7 linked regions of the Homo sapiens genome follow. The protein of the gene in region 4 interacts with the protein of the main gene of each other region in a pairwise test. Each region holds a gene or a part of one and is shown on either strand. Other genes may lie near its edges. The genes, in order: POGZ, CHAT, MECP2, SPATA12, DNALI1, A2M and KRTAP26-1.

Region 1 (3,978 bases), on a different chromosome or scaffold from region 4:
AGACATGCATTACTGTGCCCGGCTGATTTTGTATTTTTAGTAGAGACAGGGTTTCTCCATGTTGGTCAGGCTTGTCTTGAACTCCCAACCTCAGGTGATCCGCCTGCCTTGGCCTCCCAAAGTGTTGGGATTACAGGCATGAGCCACCGTGCCCAGCCAACACATGTAAATCTTAACCTGATGCTTGTACATTAGAAATTGCTTAATAAGTGTTTTTATTATTGATGTTGCATGACAGCTGTGAAAATAGAGCTGATAAATAGGTTATAGGAGAAAGAGTGAATGAGATTGCCCAGGGAAAACATAGACTAAGAAAGGCCTGGACAAAATATTGCTTAAAGGTGTTCTAGAAGAGAAAAATGAGAGAGGTAAACAAATCGGGGGGTGAGTGGAAAAGAGATAATATCGTTATGTTGCTAGTTAACTGTTTCCCAAACATGTGGTTAACTTTCATACCTACTTGCCTTTCCTCCTGCTTTTCTCTTGGTCCTCTCTCTGGCTGGCTGAGCCCCATTCTTTGACAATTCAGCTTTTATATGTTGTTATAGCTTTTCCTCATTCCTTTATGCAGAATTTCTTATTTATCCATGTCCTCATAGCACCTAATGTACCTGTAGACAGTGTTTCTAAATGGAGTTGCAGACCTCTTTGAGAATAAATATGAAATGTTTGAATCCTCTTCCTAGAAAAATCTACATTTTACTCTTTTGCAAATAATTTCAGAGAAAGCCTGGATTCCTAGAGGCCTGTTCCATAGACCCCAGATTAAGAACCCCTGGCTTTTGTTTGTTTGTTTTACTTTAAAAAATTACTTGGCTAGGCACAGTGGCTCATACCTGTAATTCTGGTACTTTGGGAGGCTGAGATGGGAGGATTGCTTGAGCTTGGGAGGTCAGGGTTGCAGTGAGCCATGATTGAGCCACTGCGCTCTAGCGTGCGAGACAGAACGAGACTCTGTCTCAAAACAAAAATCCAGGGTTCTCGGTAGTTAAAAAAAGAAAAAAGAATTATTTCAACTTTATTCATATTTCTTTGGCTGGGGTGTAGGGGGCTGGGGGCGGGGGGAGGTTAGACATTGTCCAGTAAATGCCCAAGGCTTTAAGCTTCCAGTTTTCATATTTGCAAAAACTTGAAACTAATTCCATTAAAGTGACAAAAATGTAAATAATCTCTCTCTTTTTGCCATACTGTATAATTAAAAATATGTAGCAGTTAAAAGTCTTACCAAAATTGGCCGGTGCACTGGCTCACACCTGTAATTCTAGCACTTTGGGAGACTGAAGTGGATTGACAAAAGGATTGCTTGAGGCCAGGAGTTTCCGACCAGCCTGGGCAACATGGCGAGACCCTGTCCCTACAAAAAAAAATTTTTTTTAATTACTTGGGCATGGTGGTGCACCACTGTAGTCCTAGCTACTTGGGAGGCTGAAACAGGAGGCTCGCTTGAGCTCAAAGGATAGTCCTAGCTACTCAGGAGGCTGCGGTGAGCTATGATCATGCTCCAGCCTGAGCAACAGTGAGATTCTGTCTCTTAAAAAAAAAAAAAAAAAAAAAAGCCCAGGCACGGTGGCTCACACCTATAATCCCAGCACTTTGGGAGGCTGGGACAGGTAGATCACCTGAGGTCAGGAGTTCGAGACCAACCTGGCCAACATGAAATTACCAAAAATTGTCTCAGAAGTTTGACAAAATTGTTCATTTGTGTCATAAAATTTTGTCAAAATTTTTTCTCATAAGCTTGACAAAATGGACAATTTCAAAGAGAGTAGGAGGTATTGGAGGCCAGCTGATTAGCAGTGGGAAATCATATGGGCTAGTACCAAGTTTTTGCCTTATTATAAGTATAGAGAAGTGACAGTTCCTACATGCAGTTTGAAATAATGGTGACAGAATGCAGGGTTTGGAATCCGAGATAGTGCCTAAATTTTGAGCTCAGGAAGAAATGGGGAAAGGAAAAAGGGAAACAGTGGTAAGACAGGAGGATGCTGAATTAGGTTAGAGTTGACGATAGAATAACCAATTTAAAATGTCTTATAGATAAAATCTAGAATGAAGCTTTGGTAAGAAGTCTGAGCTACGTACATAAGATTATCAGCAACATATATGTTAAGGTGGAGCCATTTAAAGAAAGAACAGAAGGGACCTATGATTTACTGATTGTTGAAAATCAAAATAAAGGAGGCAGAGAAAATAAAGATTGTGAGTCAGCAGGACTTTTGTCTTATTTTCAAGTGGATTTATTGATTACTTTTCTTCTTACAGCCAAGTGCAAGATCTGTGAATGGGCGTTTGAAAGTGAGCCACTATTTCTCCAGCATATGAAGGATACTCATAAGCCTGGAGAGATGCCTTATGTTTGCCAGGTATTGCCTTTTTCTCCAGGGAGTTTTAGCAGTTTTGCCCTCAGGAAGAATACAAAGAATTTACTAATGAATATTGTTGACCACCTACTGCATACACTCAGTTTAGGAACTCTGAGTAGGTACAGAAGAAATAGTAAACACAGTTTATCTTCAGGGTTTCCATGCAGGAGAAAAACATAAAAGAACATGTCCACAAGTAGACTAGCCGGGAACATGTGCATATTCTAAGGGAGTGTCTGTCTCCTGAACGTGCCCTTTGGAAATTGACAGAAAAGGCTTTATTTTTCTTAGTTAGAGAACATGGATTATTCTTAGACTTTCTGTCCCTTCCTATTTTTAAAGTAATAGCTAAACCTATCACAAACATAGCCCAGCATTACAAAGTCAGGAAAATAATTTGATTTCTATGCATTTGAGAAAACTTTTTTTTTTTAATTTAAAAATTTTTGTTGCTACCTTTTTTTTTAAGGCCTCTCAGTTGTTCACTTCATTCTTAGCCTTATTTTCCCTCCTATGTGACTCAGGTGTGTCAATATCGCTCCTCACTCTACTCTGAGGTAGATGTCCATTTTCGGATGATCCATGAGGATACCCGGCATCTGCTCTGCCCTTATTGCCTGAAGGTCTTCAAAAATGGCAATGCATTCCAACAGCATTACATGAGGCACCAGGTACTAGGCACCAAGCAATTCCCATATTCTCTTGTTTTTTTTTTTTTTAAACATGGATGCTGGGGCCAGGGCTGAGCTAGGCAAATAATTTGGGCAGAGATTATAATATGCATATGTTTGCAGAAATTTATTGAATTCACTTAATGTGCCATGTACTAGTCTAGATGCTAGAGATTTAGTAGTAAACAAGGCAAACAATACAATAAAACATGAAGAGTACTGTGTTGGGGAAATTATAGGATATAGAAAATCACATAGCTATTCTGGGTGCCTAGTAAGGCTTCCAGAAAGAAGTGTTGTTCAATACCTGAGGGATGAATAAGAATGAGCCAGATGAAATAAGACGAAGAACAGTGTGCCCAAGGCACAAAGCAAAATTGTGGAGGTTCAAGAAATTGAGAGAGATTCAGTGTAGGGTGTAAGAGACAGAGGGGTTGGAAGTTAGGCAGGGACAGATCATGGAGGATCTTTTAAGCCATGAAAAGAATTCACTGGGAAGCCACTAAAGGGGTTTTAAGCCCTGGAGTGATGTGTTCAGCTTTAGTTAAGGCTTTATACTGCCTGCACTGCAGAGAATGGATTAAAGGAGATTGAGACTACAGTTAGGGAAACTAGCTAGAAGGCCTTTTTCAGTAGTTTAGGTGAGAGATGATAGTGGCTATTGGCTTTTGAAATAAAAAGAGGGTAGAGTTGAGAGATATTCAGAAGATTTGTGATATTTATGATGTAGAGATGGATTAGGTGAAGGTAGCAATGCAGTAGTTAAGAATAGTGCCTAAGATTCTGTCTTGGGCAGTTGGGTGAATGAGGGAACTATTTGCTGAAATAGAAACAATAGAGAAAGTATATTTGTGAGGGGGGAGATCATGAGCTTGGATATTGTAAGTTAGCAGTATCTGTGGATGTCAAGTGTAGCTGTTGGATAATAGATCTCAAGCCTGTGA
Region 2 (4,576 bases), on a different chromosome or scaffold from region 4:
GGAAAGGGGAAGGGGGAAGGGGGAAGAGGAGTGGCAAAAAGACAAGTGTGGGAGAGGGGAAACACATGCAACCACCTGAAGTCAGGTGTGTTGCTCTGCCACCCGAAGGCTGGCTGGGGCGGGAGGGAGGATGCCTGCCCAGGGAGGATGGCATTGTCTCAGGCCAGTGGAGAACATGGTGCCTAAGGCTCCAAGGCTGAACTAGTGATAGCAGCTGGAGCTGGGACTTGCAGGGCTTGGAGTAGGAATTCAGCCCCACCCTAAGGCAAAATCACTGGGCTCAAAGCTATCAGAAGTGGAAGCTGGGATGAAGAGAGGCCCTGGAAGGAAAGATAGGGCCTAGCCTGGCCAGGGGATTTGGAAGTTAAGCTCTTAGCATTTCCTTGGCACCCTGAGGCCCGTCTCAGCCCCTCCAGGCCCTTCTGGGATCCTCAGCAAGCTGGGGGTGGAGCTGTAGCCTGGGCCTTGTGCCAGTAGAGGGCAGGGCTGGGGCCAGGCAAATGCTGGGGGCCAGTCCCACTCAGGACTGTTCTAGAAGCAAGGGCATGTAGGTGGGGAAAGCAGGGTTGAGAGAGGGCTCCAAAAGTCACTCACAGACTCCTCACTGCTGGGAGTTTTTGCTGCCATCTTACGGGGGACCTTTTCCAGGATGGGCGTCTTGGTGAGTCCTGGTGCAGGGATGCAGAGGTGTGGACCTGGGGACCAAGAAGTGGGAAGCATCAACACAGCAGCCACATAGGCCTGTCACAAACCCTCCACCTCCCGCCAACAGACCCCCACCCCAGCCCCATGAGGAGGCCAGAGCCTGACAGCTGTGTATAGGGGTCTCATTGCAGGCGTGGCCCCAGTCTCTACTTCCACCTGTACGTGCTGACCACAGTGTTCTCTCTGGGCCCCCATATGGGAGAGAGTGGTTCCTAAAGTGAGGGTCTGCTCTCATGAGTCTGTTGTCACCCAAGGCCAGCTGACCACCCTGGGGCAATCCAAATCCACCAGGGGTTGCTGGCAGAGTGCTGCCTTTGTTCCTGCCTGGAACCCAATAGATAAGTGCTTTGCCAATCAAACTCTCTCTTTCCCACTAGCTTCTCAAGGGTAAGACCATACCTACTGTGCTCAGTGCTTCATCTCTGCATTCCGGCCACATCTCTGGTGTGGAGTAGGGTGAATTCCCTCACTCCGTTGGTGGAGGGAAAGGAATGCATGCGTGGGTGAATGGAGGCCTTTAAGGCCCTGTGCTCCAGGATGCATCTGGGCTAATTGGGAGCCTGGCCTGTGGCCAGGGCAGGGAGACTCTGGGCCTGCTGGAGGCGTTGTGACCTAGGCAGTCTCGGGTCTGCAGGCTGCCAGTGTAGATGCCATAGGAGTGCCCAGGGAGGTATGCAGGGAGGCTGGGCAGCCAGGGCCCCTAGGGGCCACCTGCCTTAGTCTGGGGAGAGGCAGATTAATTTTGAAGGTACAGTAGAAGTGAGCCAGGCCAAGAGGGCAAAGACTGTTATTATTAGGCTGTGGGTCACAATTGCTACCCTCTGAGATCCCCCTGAACCTAAGCCTCCACAGGCACATACTCATGTTTTCCACCAGCCCACCCTCTATTCTCTCAAGTCTAAAGCTGAGGTTTAGCTAATTTCCTCACCCCTCTCCCCACCCAACACCACCCCTACCCAGAGGCAAGCACCGCCCATGTATGGGCACCTGGCAGGGTTGTTGCCAGGAACAGAGAGTCCAGAAAGATGGATGAACCAGGCCCAAGGATGGAGGAGCCTGGGGCTGCCTTGCAGTGCTGGGCAGAGAATGTAAAGCCCTTGCTGGCACAGTGCAGGGACACTCTCCACAGGCTTGTTCCCACGCCTCCCAGTGCTGTGGGTTCGTAGGGGCTGCCCCCAACTGCAAAGTGAAAGAGGTGGCGTCCTGGTGAGGATTCACCGGAGCATGGCAGTCTTTTGAGAGGACAGCAAGGACAAGGTCAGGTTGGTAAAGGCCCTACAGACCATGCAGCCAATGCCTCCTTTTGCTCTGGCCCAGAGCCCCCCCCTCCCCCCCATTCGGGAGACACTAGTCAGGCTTCAGGGACCCTGAGCTTGAAGAAGGCAGAGCTGGGTGGGATGGTTTCCTGGTGGTCCCACCTACCAACTCTTCTTCCTCCATCACTCCTGGGCAGATGCCTAGAGGATGTATGTGTATATATGTCTGTTTGTGTTTTGTGCCTCCCACCCATGCTCCTGCCAGCCTGGCTTTCCAAGGGCTGCCTGCTCTGCCCCGAAGGTCCAACCCCAGTCTGGCCGGTCATTCACAGGCTGTCATCGGCTATGTCCTGGCTCAGACTTGCCACCAGCCACTGCTCCTCCTTCCCCACCCCCTGCTCCCGGGAGAAGCGGTTGCCAACCAGCAATTCAGGCGAGTCGGGTCAGACCCAAGGACCCTCCGACTAGACACAGAAAGCGCGGACCTGGTCACTTAGCAGATGCTGGGCCAAGTGAAGTGAGAACATGCGCTTGGAGTCCCGAAGCCCTGATGGTTAAGCCTCCCCAAGCCCAGGCACCGAAGCAACGCAATCCTGCAGCTTCCTAGCTGACCCCCGACGGCCGCTGCTGCGCAGGACTCAGAGGACTCCACGAGTCCTGGGGCCTCTCGGCCCCGGTGCTGTCCCTGGATAGAGCCCCCGACCGCCGCCCTTGCTCCCGGCACCGCGCTCCGCCAGCCCAGCCCAGCCCTTCTTCTCACCTGCTCTCCTCGGCTCTGCTGCCTCGGCCGACGCTGCACCGCACCACTCAGGAGTGTGGGCGGGGGTGTGAGCCGGAAGGGGTGGGGGGCGTGTCGCAGCGCGGGGGTGGGGGCTGCAGCCTGGGTTCCCGGCAGGGCCTCCGACGTCGCCCGGGTCCCCGCGGCCACCCGACTGGAGAAAGCAAGCTGGCCGCACTTCTCTCCTTCCTCTTGTACCTCCTCCCTCCTCTCTCTTCCATTTCCCCCCTCCCCCAAGCCCCCTCTTCTTCGCTGTCCTCAGCCCCATCCCTTCCCCAGCTCCCCGCCCAGGGATCTCAGCTCCCGGCCCCCAGAATCTACCCGGAGCGCTTCCCGGAGGAACTCGGGCAACAAATTTAGGCTCTAGAAGGGGGCACAGAACACTGTCCCGCCCATGCCTCCTGCCCCTAGCTCAGCATTTCCCAGTCACCGCACTTCCCCAACCCCATTATTCCAGCCTTGGGGTGCTGCTGCTGAATCCTGGAGAGGGTTGGGTCTGAGGAAGTCTCTGCTCGCTGCCCTCCTCTCCCCACCATCCAGGCCAGTCTCAAACCCTGCTACACCATCTTTCAAAATAATAATAAGAAACAATAACTGGGATCAATATTCACTGCAGGACTTCCCTTTCTGTTACCATCCCATTCCTGCTGGCACTATGGGGTGGGGAGCAGAGGTGGGGTGCTACAGACTTGGGACAATCCTGATGGCAGACCTGAGGATGCTTAAGGACTGCGGCAAGAGGCAGGCTCTCCTCTCAGACAAAAGCATCCCCCACCCCAGATAGAGACCCCCACACAGAAATAGCACAGACAGACCGACAAAGGCAGACTCCGCCCAGGCACACACAGCCCGACTCGCAGATCGAGGACAGACATGCGCACAACAGCAGAGCAGACCCTCACAGGCGCAGCTAACACACAGGCGACCCTGACCAGCCGCCTCTTCACGCTATGATGGGAAGACTCTGCCTCGATCATCAGACTACGGTCTTCGGGACATGGAGTGTTGCGCGAACGCTGGCTTGAGGCTCTCAGGGCTGGGACTAAGGATGGGAAACTTTCCTGACAGTCCTGGGCCGCTGCTCCCACTCAGGACAGGGTGGCAGTGGGGGTTGGCACCAGATCCCACACTCGCATCTCTCCCTTCAAGACTCAGACCCTCGGGACTGACAGGGATACAGCAAACACCAACCACGGCTCCCCCACTCCTCCTAGGACAAGTTCTCTAATGAACACACACATCACATCATACACACATTTCCAGAGGTCGGACTCTAAAAGATGGGCCGTTTTTCTTCCTCTGCCGGAATGCTCGGCTCCTACTCCTTTCTCAAAGCCTCAACGGGGCGGGATTCTGGTCTGAAGGGAAGCTCAGCCCAGGCACCTCAGAGCTCTGAGGCTGGTGTGGGGCGTGTCCTCAAAGGGCGGGGCCTGGCGTGCCTAGCTGGAGCGGGTCCTCAGGCTCCCCCGGGCGGCATCCCCGGGCTCTGCGCTAGGCCTGGAAAAGAGGGTCTATCCTGGGCTGAGGGGAGCATGGTGCTCCTTGGTGACCGTGGGTGACAGCCTTTGTTGGGTTTGCTTCCTTCCTATCCCCTTTTCCAGGTAGAAAAACAGCTACAGGTGCCTACGTGTTAGTTTGGCTTAGGTCTGGATTGGGACTTGGAGACCCAGTTCACCCTCCCCTCTGCTCTGGCCCTGCGCGCCTCCACGCACCCCCCACCAGTAAAGAGACTCGGCCTCCTGGGACAGACACAGTTTATTGATTTGGGCGGAGGCGCCGCGGTGCAGCGGCCCAAGTTTGGCACTGGGAGCAATGGAAGGAAGGACAGACAGATGCA
Region 3 (3,978 bases), on a different chromosome or scaffold from region 4:
AGTTTAATAGGCTGTTACCCCCTCCAGAACATTCCTCCCATGTGGAGATGAAACGAGAAGTTCATTTCTTTAACCTAAAATAAAGAACAACAGAGATAAAATTGTTAGTTCCTTATTGGAGCCTGGTTTCCATTGCTAATGTACCTGCTTGGGACTCTGCATGATAAATGACGTGTCCTGGAACCTGAAATCTTTTATAAAGGTTAATATCAGCAGAAATCTTTTAATTAGCTAAGAGCAGCTTGTTCTCAAGCTGCCCGAGTTATCTTGGAGGAGAGAATCACAGGAAATGTTTGATATTTCTAGTAACCAGTGTTTTCAGTGCGTGGGGTAAAGCACACTCCTAGACTGGCCAGTCCCAAAGAGTGTGGCAGGACACCTGCTTGTTTTCCCTGCCCTCTGCTATGGTGACATCCTTGCAGACCAGTCTTGCGTGGCTGGCAGACGCAATCTTTTTTTCTTGGGTAGAGCATTATCACCGCTGCGATGGAAGGACCTTGTCCTCGGTGCCTCCATACCAGCCCTTTCCAGTGAAACTACTGCTGTCCCGGCAAGCCCCTGTGCGTGTGCATCATTCCGGGTAGGACAAGATGTGAACAGGTCCCTCTTCTTTGGGCTTAAGTAGAAGTTGTGCTCTTCTGCTTTTACCTGTGTGCTCTTCTGCTTTTACCTGTTCTCTTCTGCCTTTCTCTTGCAAGAAACCTGTCGAAAGCTTGCTTTGCATGCCATTGCTTAAATACTTTGATGGTATGTATGGTATGTGGGATAACTGAGTGGGAGCCGGAATTGGGGGGTGGGCAGGGCATCCCCACCCCCACCCCCACATCAAAGGGGGAATGACCATTTCGTTAGAGAATAAAGCCTGAGTCTTATAACTTCTTCAAGCACATGTATGCTGGGTCTCCTGGCGTGTGAATGTGTTCCCGCTGTGCTGTGTGGCTGTTTTGCAGTTACTGTAGACACTGTAGTCTGGGCTCTCATTATTGCCTCTGAAGTTGACAGGACCAAGCCTTAGTAAGGATGCACTTGTCTTCCTAGCCCAAGAGCTAGGGGTGTTTTATATATATATTAACTTTCTTTTTTAGATTTCATAAACTGCTCTCATTTTCTCTTTTCTTTCTTTCTTTTTTTTTTTTTTTTTTTGAGACAGTCTCACTCTGTCACCCATGCTGGAGTGCAGTGGCACGATCTCAGCTCACTGCAACCTCTGCCTCCCGGGCTCAAGCAGTTCTCTGCCTCAGCCTCCCAAGTAGCTGGGATTACAGGCACCTGCCACCACGCCTGGCTAATTTTTGTATTTTTTTTTTTTTTTTTTTTTTTTTTTAGTCGAGACGGGGTTTCACCATCTTGGCCACGCTGGTCTTGAACTCCTGACCTCGTGATCCACCCGCTTCAGCCTCCCAAAGTGCAGGGATTACAGGCGTGAGCCACCGCACCCAGCCTCTGGCTCTTTTCTTTTTGACATGAAATCTTAAGTTAATTATCTTAAACTTTAAGAACTAGAAGGATTCTTAGTCCAGCACCATCAGTTTACAAACAAAAAAAACTTGTGTCCCTGAGAAGTTGTGACTTTTCCAGGGCCTCCTAGCCAGGATACCAGTTTGGTTTTTATTATATAGCTAGCCGAGTAATACTATTAACTTGACTTCTGGGATTTCAAAGTATTCTATGACTTGACTGTTTAAGGGAATTATGAGGCCTCACTGAACCTCAAAAGATAATTTTAGGTACCATCCTGGTAGCTGTAGAGCAGCAACAGACCAGTAAAAGACTTGGTTGGTGTTGCCCTTCTTCTGGGTTTGATTACATGAGTAATTGTGTGAATAGTCTCTAAGTTGTATGCTCTGAGCTTTCGTTTTTAGCTTATAAAAGTGCTACTCTTGGGCCAGCATAGTATCAGAAATTAGCTAATTCATATGGGGCAGTTTAGGCTTTAACTAGGAAATGATGGTTATCTTAATGACAAAAAAGGTACTGACAAAAGTCCTTTTTTGAACATGTGTTCAAAAGAAAAAGAGAAACTATCAAACTAATAACTGAGTTTGTTGAACATCGAGATTGACTGATCTGAGAGGCTTAAAACTGATTGCCCTGAAATAGACTTGCATGTTTTGGATGATGGCTTTGGGTCTCCCAGAGCACTTGGTTTCCCTTGGTGCTGATTTTTTCTCTCAGGATTAAAGCCCCTTTATGTGATGTTGTTACAGCAGCTTATTGCAACTTCATTCAGCTGCTTGAAAAAGAAGGGAGACTGCCTCTAGGTTCCATGTGTTCTTTCAGGGATGGTATTTTGATGTTGCGTATTCTCTTGAACATGTATTCTTCCCTGAGAATTTCTGTGTGCCGTGGTAGAAGAAATACTTGCCAGAAATCGCCACTCATGGTATGCTTTTGTAGTGTCGAAGTGTCCCCTAGAGGTGACAAGGCTTGTGATAGTGTTGATTCTAACAAGCATGAATCTTTCCTTTATTTTAGCACTGTGTGTTACGTGCCAGTAATTTGCAGCTTATCCTTTGTTTCTAGCTAGGTAAGCTGGGAAATAGCCTAGTACTTTGTCTATGTGTTTATCTTCAAAATGTCCCAAATAGCCCTGGGAAAAAGGTCGTGCAGCTCAATGGGGGCTTTCAACTTACAATTTTCTTTGTTTTAGGCTCCATAAAAATACAGACTCACCAGTTCCTGCTTTGATGTGACATGTGACTCCCCAGAATACACCTTGCTTCTGTAGACCAGCTCCAACAGGATTCCATGGTAGCTGGGATGTTAGGGCTCAGGTAAGTAACCTTCCTTTTTTTTTTTTTAGTATATGTCCTGGTTTGGCCATCTGTTTTTTTTTTTTTTAAAAAAAAAAAAAAAAGGAAAAGAGGAAAAAAATATACTACTCTTGGACAGTATAAAAGTACCCCAAAGACTAAAGACATAACTGTGCCAAACTGTGCCATATAATAAAAAAAAGTCACTTCCCTGAGCCCTGAAAGGTCAGTGTGTGTAGGGTTACTTGGTCGCCACAGCGTGATCTGGGGGCGGGCGTCAGATTAGAGCCGGAACTGGTGATCTGCAACTTCAGTTCACCTTGAAGCAGGTCAGCTGAGCTGAGAGCGCTTGCACTGAGCCCTTTTGCGCTGCTGCTGTTGCCTTAGCGGTCTTCAGCATGTGTTTGCTTTGGTTTGGGGTAAATGGCTTAGTGGTCAACATTAGTGAGCAGTGGTAATGCATTTTCAGATATGGGAACTGGTATGTGGTTGGTTCCCTAGAAGGACACCCTCCTGAAAGCTGTCTCAGAACACCGGGGGCCATGGCTAATGTCATGTGCTTGCTACACTCCTCCCATGGTAACTAAAGAGAGTACCCAGATATACATCTGGTTCTTGGGACTCTAGAGGAGGATGAGTACTTTGTAAAAACCTGGGGGCCCCAGTCATTCTAGGTCTGACACTCAGGTGCTGTATCAGCTGCAGTTTGAACTACTTGGCACCATTGTGTGGACTTTAGTTTTGTAAAAATGAATGGTTCCTTAATTTCTCAACCTTCAGGCTCAACATCTCAAGCTGTTTGTTGTTGTTGTTGTTGTTGTTGTTTTGTTTTGTCTTTTTGATTAGTGGTCACTCCGCATTTGATGTTTTGACATGTGGATTTCAGAACTTCTGTGTGGTAAAGCAGAATGTTCCAATTGAATTTTCCCATTTTTTTTCCCCTAAGCAAAAATGTGAGTTTTCACTTATGCGGCCATTGTGATTCCGACTGAGACCCTAAGTCGTTCTTTGTTGTCTCTCTAGTGGTTTCTGACACCTCAGTGTGAAGCTGTTGTAGACATCCATAAGAAATAGCCTGCTTAGGGATTATGTGAGGGCAAGGTTTGGCTGAAGGAGAATAGAAGGTGTGGAAGGAAGCGGAAGACCAGAAGAGCATCACACTGCCTCAAGTCCCAAATTTGATTCTGCTCCTGATCCTGTGACTCAAATTGTCATTCTCTTTTAC
Region 4 (3,978 bases):
GGTTCCCTCTGACTCTGAGTTGAGAACAAGCTGAAAGGAGGTAAAGGCAGAGGCTTGGAGGCCGCAGTCATTCAGGTGAGAGGGGAGAATGACCTGGAGGGTGGTAGGAGCGGGAGGGGAGCAGTGGCCACTCTACAAGTAGAGTCTTTTGACAAGTGAAGAGAAGAGAGATACAAAAGTCAAAGATGACGCCCCAGGCTTTGGGCCTGAGCAACCAGGAGGTTGGGGTGCTCCTTAACAGAGATGTGGGAAGAGGATCAGGAGAGTCGGGCATCCTAGAAGCCAGGTGAGACAAGGCTTCGAGGAAGAGAAAGTGACCAACTCCATCACACGCTGCTGGTAGTCAGGAAGGATGGCAACAGAGAACAGGCCATTGGGATGAGCAACCAGGCACTCACTGTAGACCTTGGTAAGAGATATCTGGGGAGAGGGGAGTGGAAGCCAAGCCTGCCTGAAATGAGGGGCTCAAAAGAGAATGGGATAGCAGCATCATTCACAATAGACAAAAGGTGGAAGCAACTCAGTGTCCATGACAGATGAATGGTAGAACAAAATGTGGCAAATGCATAGAATTGAATAATATTCTGCCTTAAAAAGGAGGGAAATTCCATGCCAGCTGTGCTGGCTCACGCCTGTAATCCCAGCACTTTGGGAGGCCCAGGGAGGGGGACTGCCTGAGCTCAGGGGCTCGAGACCAGCCTGGGCAACATGGCAAAACCCTGTCTCTACCAAAAATACAAAAAAATTAATTGGGCATAGTGGTGCATGCCTGTAGTCCCAGCTAACCCGGAAGCTGAGGTCAGAGGATTGCTTGAGCCTGGGGGGTAGAGGTTGCAGTGAGCTGAGATTGTGCCACTGCAGCAATCAGTGACAGAGTGAGGCCCCGTCTCAAAAAACAAAACAGAAAACCAAAAACCAAGAAGGAAATTCTTTCTTTTTTTTTTCTTTCTTTTTTTTTCTTTTTTTGGAGACAGGGTTTCCCTCTGTTATCCAGGCTGGGATGCAGCGGCAAGATCACGGCTCACTGCAGCCTCAACTTCCCTGACTCAAGTGATCCTCCCATCTCAGCCCCCAAGTAGCTGAGATTACAGGTGCATGCCACCACGCCCAGCAAATTGCTGTATTTTTTGTAGACAGGGTATCACCATGTTGCCAAGGCTGGTTTTGAACCCCTGGGCTCAACATCCGCCTCCTCGGTGCTGGGATTACAGGCATGAGCCACCATACCCAGCCCAAAGGAAGGAAATTCTGACACATGTTACAACATGGGTGAACCTTGAGCACATTATGCTGAGTGAAATAAGCCAGTCACAAAAGGACAAATATGGCATGATTCCACTTATATGAGGTATCTAGAACAGTCAAATTCAGAGACAGAAAGTAGAATGCTGGTCTCCAGGGACTAGGGGCAGGGGGGAATGGGAGTTGCTGTTTAATGGATACAGTGTTTCAGTGTCACAAGATGAAAAGCTCTGCAGATTGGTTGCACAATAATATCAGTATACGCAACACTACTGACCTGAAAACTTAAAAATAGTCAACACAGTAAATTTTACGTTATGTGTGTTTTATCACAATTTTTTGAGACACAATAGAAGGCAAAAAATTAGTAAGTCCAGAAAATTATTTCAAAAAGTTTTGCTCTAAACTGAAGAGAAATGGGTGTATAACTGTAGGGAGAAGTAGGGTGGAGAGAGGGTTCTGCTGTTTTTAAGTTGGGAGAAATAACTGCATGTTTATTTGCTGATGGGACCAATCCAGTAGGCCATGGTCTTAAATGTTGAAATTACTTGCAAAAGGCCGGGCGCAGTGGCTCACGCCTCACGCCTGTAATCCCAGCACTTCGGGAGGCCGAGGCGGGCAGATAACTTGAGGTCAGGAGTTCGACACCAGCCTGGCCAACATGGTGAAACCCTATCTCTACGAAAAATACAAAATTAGCCGGGTGTGATGGTGTGCACCTGTAGTCCCAGCTACTAAGGAGGATGAGGCAGGAGAATCACTTGAGCCCAGGAGGCAGAGGTTGCAGTAAGCTGAGATTATGTCACTGCACTCCAGCCTGGGCAACAGAGCAGGACTCCATCACAAAACAAAAAAAAAAGAAATTACTTGCAAAAGAAAAACTGTATTTTAGGATGATAAATATTCTGGAACTAGTGGTGATATCTGCACTACCGTATGCATGTGCTAAAAAACAGACTGGGTACTTGAAAAGGGTCAATTTTGTGGTATGTTAATTATACCTCAATAAAAATAAAAGCTATAATAAATGTTTAATGTCTTCCAAATACCATGTTCTCATACAGGCTGAGTTCCCACCCAGGCAGCCCCAGATACCTACAGTTTCTGTGGCCAGTGACCCACCACAGCTAGGTGGTAGCCTGCGGAACAGGAGAGGCAAGGTCATCCTCATTACGGCTGAGTCACAAATGCTGCATTAGCACACACAGCCCCCTACAGCTAGATCTACGGAGCATGCACCAATTTGTTGCAGATAAATGGCACCTTTTACTTAGGCCCATGAACTCTCAGGTCTTCAGTCTTAAAATGAAATCTAAGAGCTGGGCACAGTAATTCACATCTGTAATCCCAGCTACTCAGGAGGCTGAGGCAGGAGGATCACTTGAGGCCAGGAGGGCAACACAGTGAGACTCTGTCTCCAAAACAAAAAAAAAAAACCCTAAAATGTAAGAAAAAATCCTTTCAATCAGAACAAGAAACTCTGCACCCCCACTGCCAATCTGCCCACCCATCTGGTCCACCTGTAATTGCAAGAGAACAAGGGAGGGACTTATTTTGCAGTCAATCAAAGGGGAGGGAATTCTTTCCGAAATGTTCTCCTATCTGTACCAACAGCACACTTCCACTTCCAACCATTACACTTTTCCTTTCTTTCTTTTTTTTTTTTTCTGAAACAGAGTCTGACTCTGTCACCCAGGTACAGTGGCATGATCTTGGCTCACCGCAACCTCCGCCTCCCAGGTTCAAGCGATTCACCTGCCTCAGCCTCCCAAGTAGCTGGGATTGCAGGCACCCGCCACCATGCCTGGCTTAATTTTTGTATTTTTAGTAGAGACGGGGTTTCACCATGTTGGCTAGGCTGGTCTTGAACTCCTGACCTCAAGTGATCCATCCGCCTCGGCCTCCCAAAGTGCTGGGACTATTGGCGTGAGCCACCGCGCCCAGGCTTTTGCCTTTTTCCTTTCTTCTGAACAACCTCAAACAGTATTTTACCCACTGTGATGATTAATTTTATGTGTCAACTTGGCTAGACCATGGTAACCAGCTATTTGGTCAAACATTCTAGACATTTCTGTGAAGGTATTTTTTAGATGAGATTAACATTTAAATCAGTGGACTTAGAGTAAAGCAGATTATTCTCCATGATGTGGTGGGCTTTATCCAATCAGCTATAAGCCTTAATAGAAAAAGACCGACCTCCCAGAGCAGGAAGAATTCTACCCAGAGAGCCTTTGGGCTCACTGCAACTCTTCCCTGGGTCTCCGGCCTGCCAGTCTACCTTGCTGATTTTTGACTCACCTGGCCTCCACAATCACATGAGCCAATTCCTAAAAATCAACCTCTCAATAGATAGATGAGCGATTGATTGACACACATCCTGTTGGTTCTGTTTCTCTCCAAACCCTAATACACACCCAAAATAAGTGATTTTCCAATAGAAATTGTCTGTAAGGACCTGTACTTGCATGAAATTTCAAGTCACCAGATAAATGAATAAAAATATATTTTTTAAAAACCACAAAATATGGCAACCCAGAAAGAATAACATTTGTCGGCCAGGCGCGGTGGCTCACGCCTGTAATCCCAGTACTTTGGGAGGCCAAGGCGGGTGGATCACAAGGTCAGGAGATCGAGACTATCCTGGCTAACACGGTGAAACCCTGTCTCTTCTAAAAATACAAAAACAAAATTAGCCGGGCGTGGTGGCGGGCGCCTGTACTCCCAGTTACTCGGGAG
Region 5 (3,978 bases), on a different chromosome or scaffold from region 4:
TGAAGGGGGCCAGCCCCTCCACACCTGTGGGTATTTCTCCTCAGGCAGGAGGAGAGACTAAGAAAAGAAATAAGACACAGACAAAGTATAGAGAAAGAAAGGTGGGCCCAGGGGACCGGCACTCAGCATACGGAGGACCCGCACCGGCACTGGTCTCTGAGTTTCCTCAGTATTTATTGATTACTATTTTCACTATCTCAGCAAGAGGAATGTGGCAGGAGAGCAGGGTGATAGTGGGGAGAAGATCAGCAAGAAAACACGTGAGCAAAGGAATCTGTGTCACGAATAAGTTCAAGGGAAGGTACTATGCCTGGATGTGCACGTAGGCCGGATTTATGCTTCTCTCTACCCAGACATCTCAGTGGAGTAAAGAGTAACAGAGCAGCATTGCTGCCAACATGTCTCGCCTCCCGCCACAGGGCGTTTTTTCTCCTATCTCAGAACAAACGTACAATCAGGTTTTATACTGAGACATTCAGTTCCCAGGGGCAGGCAGAAGACAGAGGCCTTTCTCTTATCTCAACGGCAAGGGGCCTTCCTCTTTTACTAATCCTCCTCAGCACAGACCCTTCACGGGTGTCAGGCTGAGGGACGGTCAGGTCTTTCCCATCCCACCAGGCCATATTTCAGGCTATCACGTGGGGAGAAACCTTGGACAATACCTGGCTTTCCAGGGCAGAGATCCCTGCGGCTTTCTGCAGTGCATTGTGCCCCTGGTTTATCGAGAATGGAGAATGGCGATGACTTTTACCAAGCATGCTGCCTGTAAACATTTTGTTAACAAGGCACATCCTGCACAGCCGTAGATCCCTTAAACCTTGATTCCATACATCACATGTTTCTGTGAGCTCAAGGTTGGGGCAAAGTTACAGATTAACGGCATCTTAGGGCAAAGCAATTGTTCAGGGTACAGGTCAAAATGGAGTTTCTTGTGTCTTTCTTTTCAACGTAGACACAGTAACAGTCTGATCTCTCCTTCTTTTCCCTACACCAGCCCCGCCTCTTCTACAAGTCCTCCAGCTGCCAACCACTATATTCTTGGCAACTTGAGTTCCTCACCCCTTAGCAGATGTTTGGAGTAAAACGATAACTTCCATCTGTTTTTTCAAAGATTTTCTATAATAAGCATGTGCTAATTTTTTAGTCAGAAAGATTAATGTTCAGTATTTACATCCATCCATCCATCCATCAATATTTGGCCCTTGGTCCAGAAAAATATTGTGATTTGTTGTTAACCCACAGACACGAGAGATTTAAGATGCACCTCCTTGAGTGCTGGTGTCAAATGGCTGTCTCCCAGCCCAGTCTCATTGGCTCTTATGGACGCCGATCTGCAAACCACCTCCAAACCCTCAGGCAGCTGCAGGGTCTAGCAGGCTTCCCTATCCGTGTGTTATTATGGTTTGCCCTCCAGGTCAGCATTTATGGGGAGATAGATGGGCAAGCTCTAGACCCTGCCATTTCCCTCAAACCAGTGCAGCCAAGGGGGCACACAGGATGTCCCAGCTGCTTTAAAACAGCTGCCATCTTTAAACAGAAAAAGTCAGGTTTTTTCGAGTAGTAACCAGTTTTTACCTAAGGCAGGAAGGGAGGGGACCCAGTGCTGTAAACAAACCAGAGCCTCTTGTCTCCTTTGCTCTGGCCAACCCAGTCTTGCTGACTGTGCTACTCACAAGTGCCAAGTTCAGAGGAGTGACTGCATGGCAAGGCTCTTTGGGCCACTGAAGGCACCCTCCCTGAGGCCCTTCTCTGAGGCCTTGCACTTTGTCTCCAAGCGAGAACACCCTAATGTCCTTCCCAAGAGGAAGGGTGTTTGCAGTAGACATACTGCAAGCCCCCTCCCCACGCCCTGTCTGATCTCATGGTGTGTGTGCATTGGAAGATGAGTTGATCCGGGAGGTCACCATCAACTGTGCGGAGAGGGGGCTGCTGCTGCTGCGAGTCCGGGACGAGATCCGCATGACCATCGCTGCCTACCAGACCCTGTACGAGAGCAGCGTGGCGTTTGGCATGAGGAAGGCACTGCAGGCTGAGCAGGGGAAGTCAGACATGGAGAGGAAAGTGAGTGGGGTTTACCGTGACCCTTGGTCCCATCTCTTCTGTAAACCTCAGGGCCACATGCTTATCATTCCAGCACTACATTCTGACCTCCTAAGGTGCTCTGCTGACAGTCACGACACCTGGACTTGCATCACCTCAGTGAGGGACCCCTGGTTGAGTATGATGGCCAGCCTGGTGGTCTTGGCAGAGTTGTTTCCGCTGTAGACGCTCCATGCCAGGCACTGACCTCCCACTGGGTGGCAGTATATACCCTGGCAATGTCATGTCCCATGTCCCTTCCACCCAGGCTCACACCATTCCATTCACCTGGCGACATCCCAGGATGACTGGGCATTCTCTCCTCAGATCGCAGAATTGGAGACGGAAAAGAGAGACCTGGAGAGGCAAGTGAACGAGCAGAAGGCAAAATGTGAAGCCACTGAGAAGCGGGAGAGCGAGAGGCGGCAGGTGGAGGAGAAGAAGCACAATGAGGAGATTCAGTTCCTGAAGCGAACAAATCAGCAGCTGAAGGTAATCAACGCGCAGGGTGGGGTGGAGGTGCCCCCTGCCCTGCGACCCAGCCCCACAGGCCAGGCATTCGGTTCCTTTTCCATGGCTTTTAAATGTTTGTCCACATGCACTGCCAAAGGATAAAGGAAGCTGACTTTGGTGGTGGGAGAAGGGGAGGGCTCCAGAGGGGGTCTCTACTCTCAACTCCAAATCTCTGAGGCGCCTCAGCCTGGCTCTCCAGTGGAGGATTCTTCTCCCTGGAAAAAAGTTGCCCATCCTCAAGGAAGAGGTGGATATGGCAAAAAGTGGAACTCCATTCCCCTGGAAGCTGGTATGTTGGAGCCTTTCTGGAGGGGGCTGGGCTCCAGGTGGCTTGCGTGGTAGTGCCATCCCATGGCTGTCTCCTCTGAGGCCCTGTTTCAGGGCATAACCAGGGAAGAAGTCAAAGGGCAGCAGGGCCCTTTGAGAGGAAGAACCATTTCAAATCAGAAACCTTCCCCAGAAATGTGGTCGGGGAACCCAGGCACAGGTGCTCTTCCTCGAAGTCCGATGCCAGCAGTGGTCTTTTATCCAGCTGAGGTGATAGGAGGGAGGGGGCTGGTGGACAAAGCTGGGCAGGAGGCCATGCTACAGGCACTGCAACTCCCAGCTGTTTGGTCCAAAGGTCTCAAAAGGTAGGCCCTAGATCAACATCGTCCTCACCTGGCAAAGCAAGACAAATTATTGGGCCCACCCCAGATCTACCAAATCAGAAAATTCGGGGTTGGGGTCCAGCAATGTGCTTTAACAAGGTCTCAGGTGATTCTAATGTTTGCAGAAGTTTGAGCATCACTGTTCTGGAAAGATGGCCTACTGACATTTAGTGGCCTTCTCCCATGGCCCTGGCCAAAGGACCCTGGATGGATCTCCCTCTCCTCCCTAGGCTCAGATAGAAACCTTACAATCTTGACATTGCAGGCTTGTTTGGTCTACACACCAGCAGGACTGGCCATTTGCGATAAAGAAGGCTTTCTGTTAACCACTACTGGAACTTTTCTTGTTGCACAAAGAAAAGCAAGAAACTTTCACAGCCAGAGATGAATCTGTTTCCTTAGCAGCCTCTGAGGCTGCTTTCCTTAACTGCCATATTCCTTTTTCATAAGCCTGAGTTCCTCAGTTCTTCCTGGATTAGCAACAAGAGCAAACCAAATACCTTAGCATGTTTCTAACATTTAAAAGCAATCTTGTAATCTCCAGGGTGAAAGATTCTTTAGAAGTTGGCATTTTTAAATTTTTTTTCTTTTGAGACGGAGTTTTGCTCTTGTTGCCCAGGCTGGAGTGCAATGGCACCATCTCAACTCATTGCAACCTCTACCTCCCGGGTTGAAGTGATTCTCTTGCCTCAGCCTCCTGAGTAGCTGGGATTACAGGCATGTGCCAGCACGCCCG
Region 6 (3,978 bases), on a different chromosome or scaffold from region 4:
TTTACTCATTTCAAAAAGTGTCTTGAATGCTTTCCACGTGCCAGCACTGTGCTAGTCTTGACAATGAAATTATTATTTCTACCTGTTCCCTGTTTGGGGTGATCATATATGTGTTGTCACCAAAATATACATTAAGATATGAACAAAATGTTTTGCTCAAGGATTCACTAGTGCTATTGGGAGCTGGGGATGAAGGTAGAGGAAGCCTGAAAGGAGCTAAGGAATAACTTCTACAGGAAGAAAAGTTGGAAATATAACCCAAATAGGGCCTCTGAGGTATTAGAATCCAGATTGCAGGGAGCATTAAAAATAGTCAGCCTAGGCCAGGCACGGTAGCTCACGCCTGTAATCCCAGCACTTTGGGAGGCTGAGGTGGGTGGATTGCGTGAGGCCAGGAGATCGAGACGAGCCTAGGCAACGTGGTGAAACCCTGTCTCTACAAAATATACAAAAAATTAGCTGGGTGGGGTGGCATGCACCTGTAGTCCTAGCAACTCAGGAGGCTGACTGGGAGGATCACTTGAGCCCCAGAGGCAGAGATTGCACTGAGCCAAGATTGTGCCACTGTACTCCAGCATGGGCGCCAGAGCAAAACCCTGTCTCAAAAAAATAATAATAATAGCAATCAGCCTAAGATAGCCCAGAAGAGGTAGACTTCAGCTAATTCATCAGCTCAGCTCTTAAACCAATGCTTTCTACCAATGTCTTCTCAGACCCCTAAGGTTACAATATTTTATTTATTCATAATACCCATTCAAAATCCACCCTAAAAGAGGCAGCTGCTTTCTGAAAGCACAGTTCTTCCATTTCTAGAGATTATTTACTCTCCTCAATGAAGTTTCATAGCTCCAGTGTCTCTAATTGCACAGGTAAAGCAGTCAAAGAAATTTCAAGCAAGCTAATCAGAGCAAAGGATGCCTCCTTTTATGCTCTTAAGAAATATAAATCTCAATCCCAGGAGGCTCTGCAGTGTAAAGTCACAAAGCATGCCTACATTTGAAGCAGAGAAACAAAATCAGGGGTCCTTCTCCCACTTTTCATTGTGGAACAAAAGATTTCTAGCTACTAGTTAAGGTAGGACAGTAAACTTACGTAGTTTTGTGAGAACATTAATCTTTATGACGTATAATCTAAAAATAATATAATTTTTCTAATTCATTAGGTCAATTACAAGGATCGTAGTCCCTGTTACGGCTACCAGTGGGTGTCAGAAGAACACGAAGAGGCACATCACACTGCTTATCTTGTGTTCTCCCCAAGCAAGAGCTTTGTCCACCTTGAGCCCATGTCTCATGAACTACCCTGTGGCCATACTCAGACAGTCCAGGCACATTATATTCTGAATGGAGGCACCCTGCTGGGGCTGAAGAAGCTCTCCTTCTATTATCTGGTGAGAAGGGAGGTTACTGCGTTGACTTCACTGTAGACAAAAGCTCTCTGTGGAGCAAGTAATCATGAAGCTCTTTAGATGTCATTACTTCAACTTCTTATCCATGTTCCTTTTGAAAGTTTGATTTCTCTTGAGGTGAATTATTGCCGGCAGGGACTCAATAAAACAAGTATATTGAAGTGAGACTGAAGCGTGTTCTCTCTGGCACATTTAATTTCTTTTTATTTCCTTTTTTGCAGATAATGGCAAAGGGAGGCATTGTCCGAACTGGGACTCATGGACTGCTTGTGAAGCAGGAAGACAGTGAGTATTTCCATCATCTCTGCATTGCTGCCCCATTCTGACCCATTCAGCCTTACACCACGGAAGTATCAGAATACTTTCCCTTTTTTTCCATAGGTTTTTGGGGGAACAGGTGGTGTTTGGTCACATGAATGAATAAATTCTTTGGTAGTGATTTCCGAGATTTTGGTGCACCCATCACCCGAGCAGTATACATTGTACCCAATTTGCAGTCTTTTATCCCTCACCCCCTTCCACCCTTCCCCCTGAATCCACAAAGTCCATTGTATCATTCTTATGCCTTTGCATCCTCATAACTTAGCTCCCACTTCCTAATAGCTTAGCTGCCACTTCCTAATAGCTTAGCTCCTACTTCTGAGTGAGAAGATATGATGTTTGGTTTTCCATTCCTGAGCTGGGAATATCAGGAATACTTTCAAGTAACGAGAGACCATTTCCATCTAATATTAATTAAAAGAAAGTTGAGGGAGGGAAAACAATAATGGTTTTTTTCTCACCCTTTATCAAATATGTGTTGTCTTTTTTTTCAGCCTATTTTCTTTGCGTTATTTAAAATATTGGTGTGGGCCAGCTATGATGGCTTACGCCTGTAATCCCAGTACTTTGGGAGAACGGGATGGGAGGATCTCTTGAGGTCAGGAGTTTGAGACCAGCCTGGTCAACATAGTGAGACCCCATCTCTATAAAAGTAAATAAATAAATAAATAAATAAATAAGAACAAAGGGGGAAAAATAAAATACATAAAATATTGTTGTGTATAATCTATGCTTATTCCAGATTTTTAAACCATAAATATTCTTGAACCTCTTCTCAAAATGAGAATTGTGTTAGAGAATGGGGTGGAGAAAATGTACGATTTCAAGGTATGTTGTATATACCAGGTCTTGTGCTGAGTCATTTATGTCATTTATATTATTATAAATATCTTTTTTCCCTTTCAAGATAGTTATGATTTATGAAGCATTAAATTGGGTACTTCTACCGACTGAAGCGGACTCTTGCCATGAGCAAATATGTCATAATATAAACCTTTGAAGGTTGCTCCTAGTCTAGTAGACTCTAAAAGATAACTTGCTAGAAAAGTATCAGTAATCTACTCTCTCATTAGTTCTTGTAGCAACACAGAAGCACCATAGCAGACTGAAGGAAACTTAATGCAACCTCTAAAGAATCTACATAGGCATCAAAAAATAACTTCTGAAGGAGCATGGTGTTCCTCTTATGGAGAAAGAACCAAATATTGGCTCATAGAAGGTTAAAGAGCATGTAGCATGAATACAATGTGTTGAACTCTTACTCTTACATCTCATAACTTCAGGTTCTATTTCCCTCTTCTAGTATGAGGCCTAGATCAAATGGTAGTGAATTGGATGTCTTCATACCCTTAACTAGCATCAGAACATTAGGTGGGTGAGCTGAAGCTTAAAGCTGGTGAAAAATCAACAGAGTATATGATTTATGAGAGGAGAGAGGGCTTTGATAGGGTTTTTTTCTAAAGCTAGAGTCCTTAGAGGTAATCATCCATTTGTTACATCTACTGTTTATTATGTCTGTTACATCTACTAATGGAAATAGTCATTAACCTATGATGGCTTCCTCTCATTCTCTTTGTGCCCCAGTGAAGGGCCATTTTTCCATCTCAATCCCTGTGAAGTCAGACATTGCTCCTGTCGCTCGGTTGCTCATCTATGCTGTTTTACCTACCGGGGACGTGATTGGGGATTCTGCAAAATATGATGTTGAAAATTGTCTGGCCAACAAGGTGTGTGTTTTAGATCATAAAATCTTCAACATGTAAAACTAGAAGTTACTATTGTTATCATTTGTTTTACACATGTGAACATTAGGGCCAAAAGGGTTAAACAAATTCCCCAGAGACATTCAGCAAGGTAGTGGCAGAGTCACACTAAGAAGCAGAATCACTTGATTCCTTATACAAAACTCTCAAACTTCTCCTAGCAGTGCCTCTTACCAATTACACAGTTCAGAGTATGTTATTCCCTTCTTCTATGATGAAACGTTGGGAAATATGTAAGCAAGTTTTTAAGACTACTAAGGAGCCAAAAGAAAAATGCAAGAGCACCTAGACCCATGCATGTCCCACCACAATTAATGAGCACCTTGCCGTGTATCAAAGATAAAAATGGCATTTCATGACTAGTAATTTATAAGAATAATTAGAAATAATTCTACTGGCTCAAGTGATTCTTGAGAATGAAAGAGAAGTGTAGGGAACAAAAAGCTTCAGGATTGACACAATGCCAACCCTCCACGAAGTCAAGCA
Region 7 (3,371 bases), on a different chromosome or scaffold from region 4:
GTTTATATTAGAGAAGAGCAGACATAAAAAGGATCAACATACAATTTCATAAGCATTCAGCTAAATATGACTGTACCTATTACTAACGCCATTCAGCTGATGCAACCAGGATTTTACAAGAAGACTCTAGCAGCTGTATACACAGAGTATTAGGTGATGTCCGAAGTATACAAAGTATCCGGTTATACAAACAGTATTAGGTGATGAGGGCCTGGGGTTGGGGGTTGGAGTGAGTGGGGCTTTCTCAAATACATCAGGTACAAATCGTCTGACCTAAAATACTGAGATAAATTCAACATGTTAGTACAGGACCTCCGGGATTATACCATTTTATTTTTATATTTCTCCCCCAGTAGTAAAATAGTCTAGTGTTGTCTCATTGAGAAACCAACTTTCTGTTTCAGAGATTTCACTCCTCCAGGACAGAGGGAGACTGGATAAGCACAAGTATGTCCCTCAAACACCAAAATAGAAGAAAGTGTTATGATTTAAATTGACTAGCCAAAAGGAATTGGAACTTAGAGCCAGCAGATAATTTAAAATCCCATTAAAATAGCTACTGGAGCCACTGGGTATGTCAGTATGAGAAAAATATAGAGGGATAGTTGAAACTAACTAAAATCATACATTTTTTAAAACAATTTTACCAGAAATACATATTCTCAAATGACCTTTAAAGTACTAAAACTTAGGAAAACAATAATTTATCCTGATGCTTTTCCCTATGTAAAGCAGTTTAGAAGCTCCTTTTTGGAAATTGACATCAAGGCCAATGTAGAAAGCAAAATAAATTCATGTCATAATCAGTGTATTTTTTAACCAAGAACAATATTTTTTCAGTTGGAATATGAGAAACCATGCAATACATAACCTTGAAATAATCATGAAAAATGTCAAGATGCCTGACTTTCTTTAAGAGGTCTACTTCTCTGCTTTTGTTCACAGTAGGATACATAATTTTAACTTGGCCCAACTTCATTATCTATATTCAAGAATATCTTAAACATAAGCCAAGGTTTCAGCTTCACTCAGCTTATTTATTTATTGAAATGACTAAAATGAGCACATATTTTTGAATAAAGATATTTTGGTAGAAAGTCAAGTCTGAATAGAATTCTGAAATAAAGCAAATCACAACTTAGAAAAATAAATTCTAACCAAGCAAAACATATTGAAATTGTCCATATTTCTGTCATATAGTTTGCAAGGATTTTCATTTTCTCTTATACTTGTTCCAAGTTACTCACTTCTGGCAATTTCCAAGAAGAATAGAATTTTTCTTCAAAAAGATGTAAGTTCTCACTGTTTCAAAGAAGTTGCTACAACTTTCAAAGACAATTCTAAGAGAGGAATCTTAAGAATGTTTGTGCAATGGTGGTTATAATTGGAATAAGCACATAGGCTTTAAAATGTGTCTGTTTTGTTTGGATAATTTAAGAAGGATAGATCCTATTAAAACTCAGTCGCATTGGTTTATAGATAGACGTAATCAATGGATGGCATTGCAAGGAGCATCCAGTTTTATGGAGGGTGGAAGCCTCACTTCCTTGGCTATAATAAAGAGTTCTGATGCATCTTCATACAACAAGAGGAAGAGTCTGCACGCAGAAGCACCACCTTCTAGGGATAAATAAAGGGTCAAGCTAAGGAAGGGCAGAACAAACTTCAGACACTCACTTCTTTGCCTCAACTTCAGCCTGCTCTCACAACCTCACTATGTCTTGCCCCAACTACTGCTCGGGAAACTCCAACTCAGGATCTCTCAGAACCTCCCGCCATATTCCTCTCACCTCCATCGACCTCTGCCCTACCAGCGTGAGCTGTGGAGATGTCCTCTACTTACCCACTAGCTCTCAAGACCATACCTGGGTCACAGACAACTGCCAAGAGACCTGCGGTGAACCAACCAGCTGCCAGCCGGTCCACTGTGAGACCGGCAATCTTGAAACCTCTTGCGGTTCTTCCACTGCTTACTACGTGCCCAGGCCTTGCCAAGGAAGCAGTTTTCTTCCTGCTTCTTTCTTCTCCAGTTCCTGCCTTCCAGTATCCTGTAGACCACAGAGGTATGTGTCCAGCGGCTGTCGTCCACTGAGGCCGCTGCTCAATAGTTACCAGCCCATAGGAGACTGTGTGCCCAATGCCTATCGCCCCCAATTCTGCTTGTCCAAGAGTTGCCAGCCCCAAAACCTCCTCACTTCTGGATGCCAACCCTCGAGTTGCTTGGCCTATCGTCCTCAAAGTCTTCACGTTGTGTCCAGCAGCCTCAGACCTCTGGGGCCTCTGTTCAGTGGTTGCCAACCTCTGACCCATGTGTTCAGCACGTGTCGTCCATCTTGCTCTGGACTGTGAAACCAGCAGCTTCTTTGTTCCAGTGAATAATCACTCTGAGCATCCACAACAAAAATTCAAACTCCATGGACTTTTGCTTCTTTGCTAGTAGCAACTGATGTTTCTTAGTTTTACTGTGCCTGATCTAATGCAAGCTGCTTCTCTCGCATGTTTTATCTTGTTTTCATCTTTCCTTGACATCAAAAAAATTAGTTTACAATGCTATTCAATGTTGCTCTGGTCTGGGAAGAATGTATTTGTTTTGCACTATAATAAATGCGATTAAGTCCAAATTAAGAATCTGGTTCAGCGCTTTGTGTTTCATGACTTAATTTCAACACAGAAATAACCAACGTCAATTGCTTGCAAGATGACTGAGCTGGACAAGTGATACTCAACCATATATTCTTACCTGACAGTAGAGGGATTGTTTGATGGTTTATTCCTTAAGCTGCTTTTTAGACTTCTGACCCTATGTACTTGAGAGACCCAAAAAGTCCTTGGGAAAGCTGTTTTGAAAAGGAAAAATTAGGAGTGATGTCTCTTATCTCTCTACCCCATGAACACACTTCCACCAGAATGTTCTTTCTAATTGCAAACCTAACCAAGTTTCTGCTTACGCCTTTGATGGCTTCCTATAATCTATTCCCATAAGATAAATATTCAAACCTCTTAGCATGACACCTAGTTCCCTCACTGTCTTTCTCCCCCATACCTCTCTGGCTTCATGCTCTTTTGCTCAATATTGCAAATAATAAAACTAAGCTCCTGCGATCCTGACTTACACATGGGTCCCCAAACATATGCTTTTTACAGTCATCCATCCTTTTGCATAGGTCATCATCGAGAGCGGTATGTTCTTCAGCTCTGTTTTGAAAACTCATACTTGCTTTTACAAAAACACAGTCTTGAGTTCATTAATTAATCTTTTGATTTATTCAGAAACAAAGGTACTGCTTGCATACTATATGCCAGGCACAAAAGATACTGAGGTGAACAAAACAGTCCTGAACTATCACAGAATTTGCCAGAAGTTATAAGCT

Evidence for each region.
Region 1: the proteins of SPATA12 (region 4) and POGZ interact in binary tests that used the Homo sapiens proteins (3 or more experiments, as listed by UniProt).
Region 2: the proteins of SPATA12 (region 4) and CHAT interact in binary tests that used the Homo sapiens proteins (3 or more experiments, as listed by UniProt).
Region 3: the proteins of SPATA12 (region 4) and MECP2 interact in binary tests that used the Homo sapiens proteins (3 or more experiments, as listed by UniProt).
Region 5: the proteins of SPATA12 (region 4) and DNALI1 interact in binary tests that used the Homo sapiens proteins (3 or more experiments, as listed by UniProt).
Region 6: the proteins of SPATA12 (region 4) and A2M interact in binary tests that used the Homo sapiens proteins (3 or more experiments, as listed by UniProt).
Region 7: the proteins of SPATA12 (region 4) and KRTAP26-1 interact in binary tests that used the Homo sapiens proteins (3 or more experiments, as listed by UniProt).

The regions. Positions count from the first base shown.
Region 1 is NC_000001.11:151,410,681-151,414,658, reverse strand, and holds part of POGZ (pogo transposable element with ZNF domain), read left to right. Parts: intron 1-2,262; coding exon 2,263-2,363; intron 2,364-2,887; coding exon 2,888-3,034; intron 3,035-3,978. UniProt on the Homo sapiens protein: Plays a role in mitotic cell cycle progression and is involved in kinetochore assembly and mitotic sister chromatid cohesion.
Region 2 is NC_000010.11:49,612,621-49,617,196, reverse strand, and holds the start of CHAT (choline O-acetyltransferase), read right to left. Parts: upstream 3,161-4,576; 5' UTR 3,008-3,160; coding exon 2,722-3,007; intron 1,175-2,721; exon of another isoform or gene 1,145-1,174; coding exon of another isoform or gene 1,105-1,144; intron 696-1,104; coding exon 595-695; intron 1-594. UniProt on the Homo sapiens protein: Catalyzes the reversible synthesis of acetylcholine (ACh) from acetyl CoA and choline at cholinergic synapses.
Region 3 is NC_000023.11:154,090,980-154,094,957, reverse strand, and holds part of MECP2 (methyl-CpG-binding protein 2), read left to right. Parts: exon of another isoform or gene 1-580; intron 581-1,408; exon of another isoform or gene 1,409-2,748; coding exon of another isoform or gene 2,749-2,774; intron 2,775-3,978. UniProt on the Homo sapiens protein: Chromosomal protein that binds to methylated DNA. It can bind specifically to a single methyl-CpG pair. It is not influenced by sequences flanking the methyl-CpGs.
Region 4 is NC_000003.12:57,063,375-57,067,352, forward strand, and holds part of SPATA12 (spermatogenesis-associated protein 12), read left to right. Parts: intron 1-3,978.
Region 5 is NC_000001.11:37,559,675-37,563,652, forward strand, and holds part of DNALI1 (axonemal dynein light intermediate polypeptide 1), read left to right. Parts: intron 1-1,882; coding exon 1,883-2,061; intron 2,062-2,406; coding exon 2,407-2,571; intron 2,572-3,978. UniProt on the Homo sapiens protein: Involved in sperm flagellum assembly.
Region 6 is NC_000012.12:9,098,859-9,102,836, reverse strand, and holds part of A2M (alpha-2-macroglobulin isoform a precursor), read left to right. Parts: intron 1-1,162; coding exon 1,163-1,390; intron 1,391-1,629; coding exon 1,630-1,693; intron 1,694-3,313; coding exon 3,314-3,456; intron 3,457-3,978. UniProt on the Homo sapiens protein: Is able to inhibit all four classes of proteinases by a unique 'trapping' mechanism. This protein has a peptide stretch, called the 'bait region' which contains specific cleavage sites for different proteinases.
Region 7 is NC_000021.9:30,318,381-30,321,751, reverse strand, and holds KRTAP26-1 (keratin-associated protein 26-1), read left to right. Parts: upstream 1-1,436; 5' UTR 1,437-1,716; coding exon 1,717-2,349; 3' UTR 2,350-2,628; downstream 2,629-3,371. UniProt on the Homo sapiens protein: In the hair cortex, hair keratin intermediate filaments are embedded in an interfilamentous matrix, consisting of hair keratin-associated proteins (KRTAP), which are essential for the formation of a rigid and resistant hair shaft through their extensive disulfide bond cross-linking with abundant cysteine residues of hair keratins.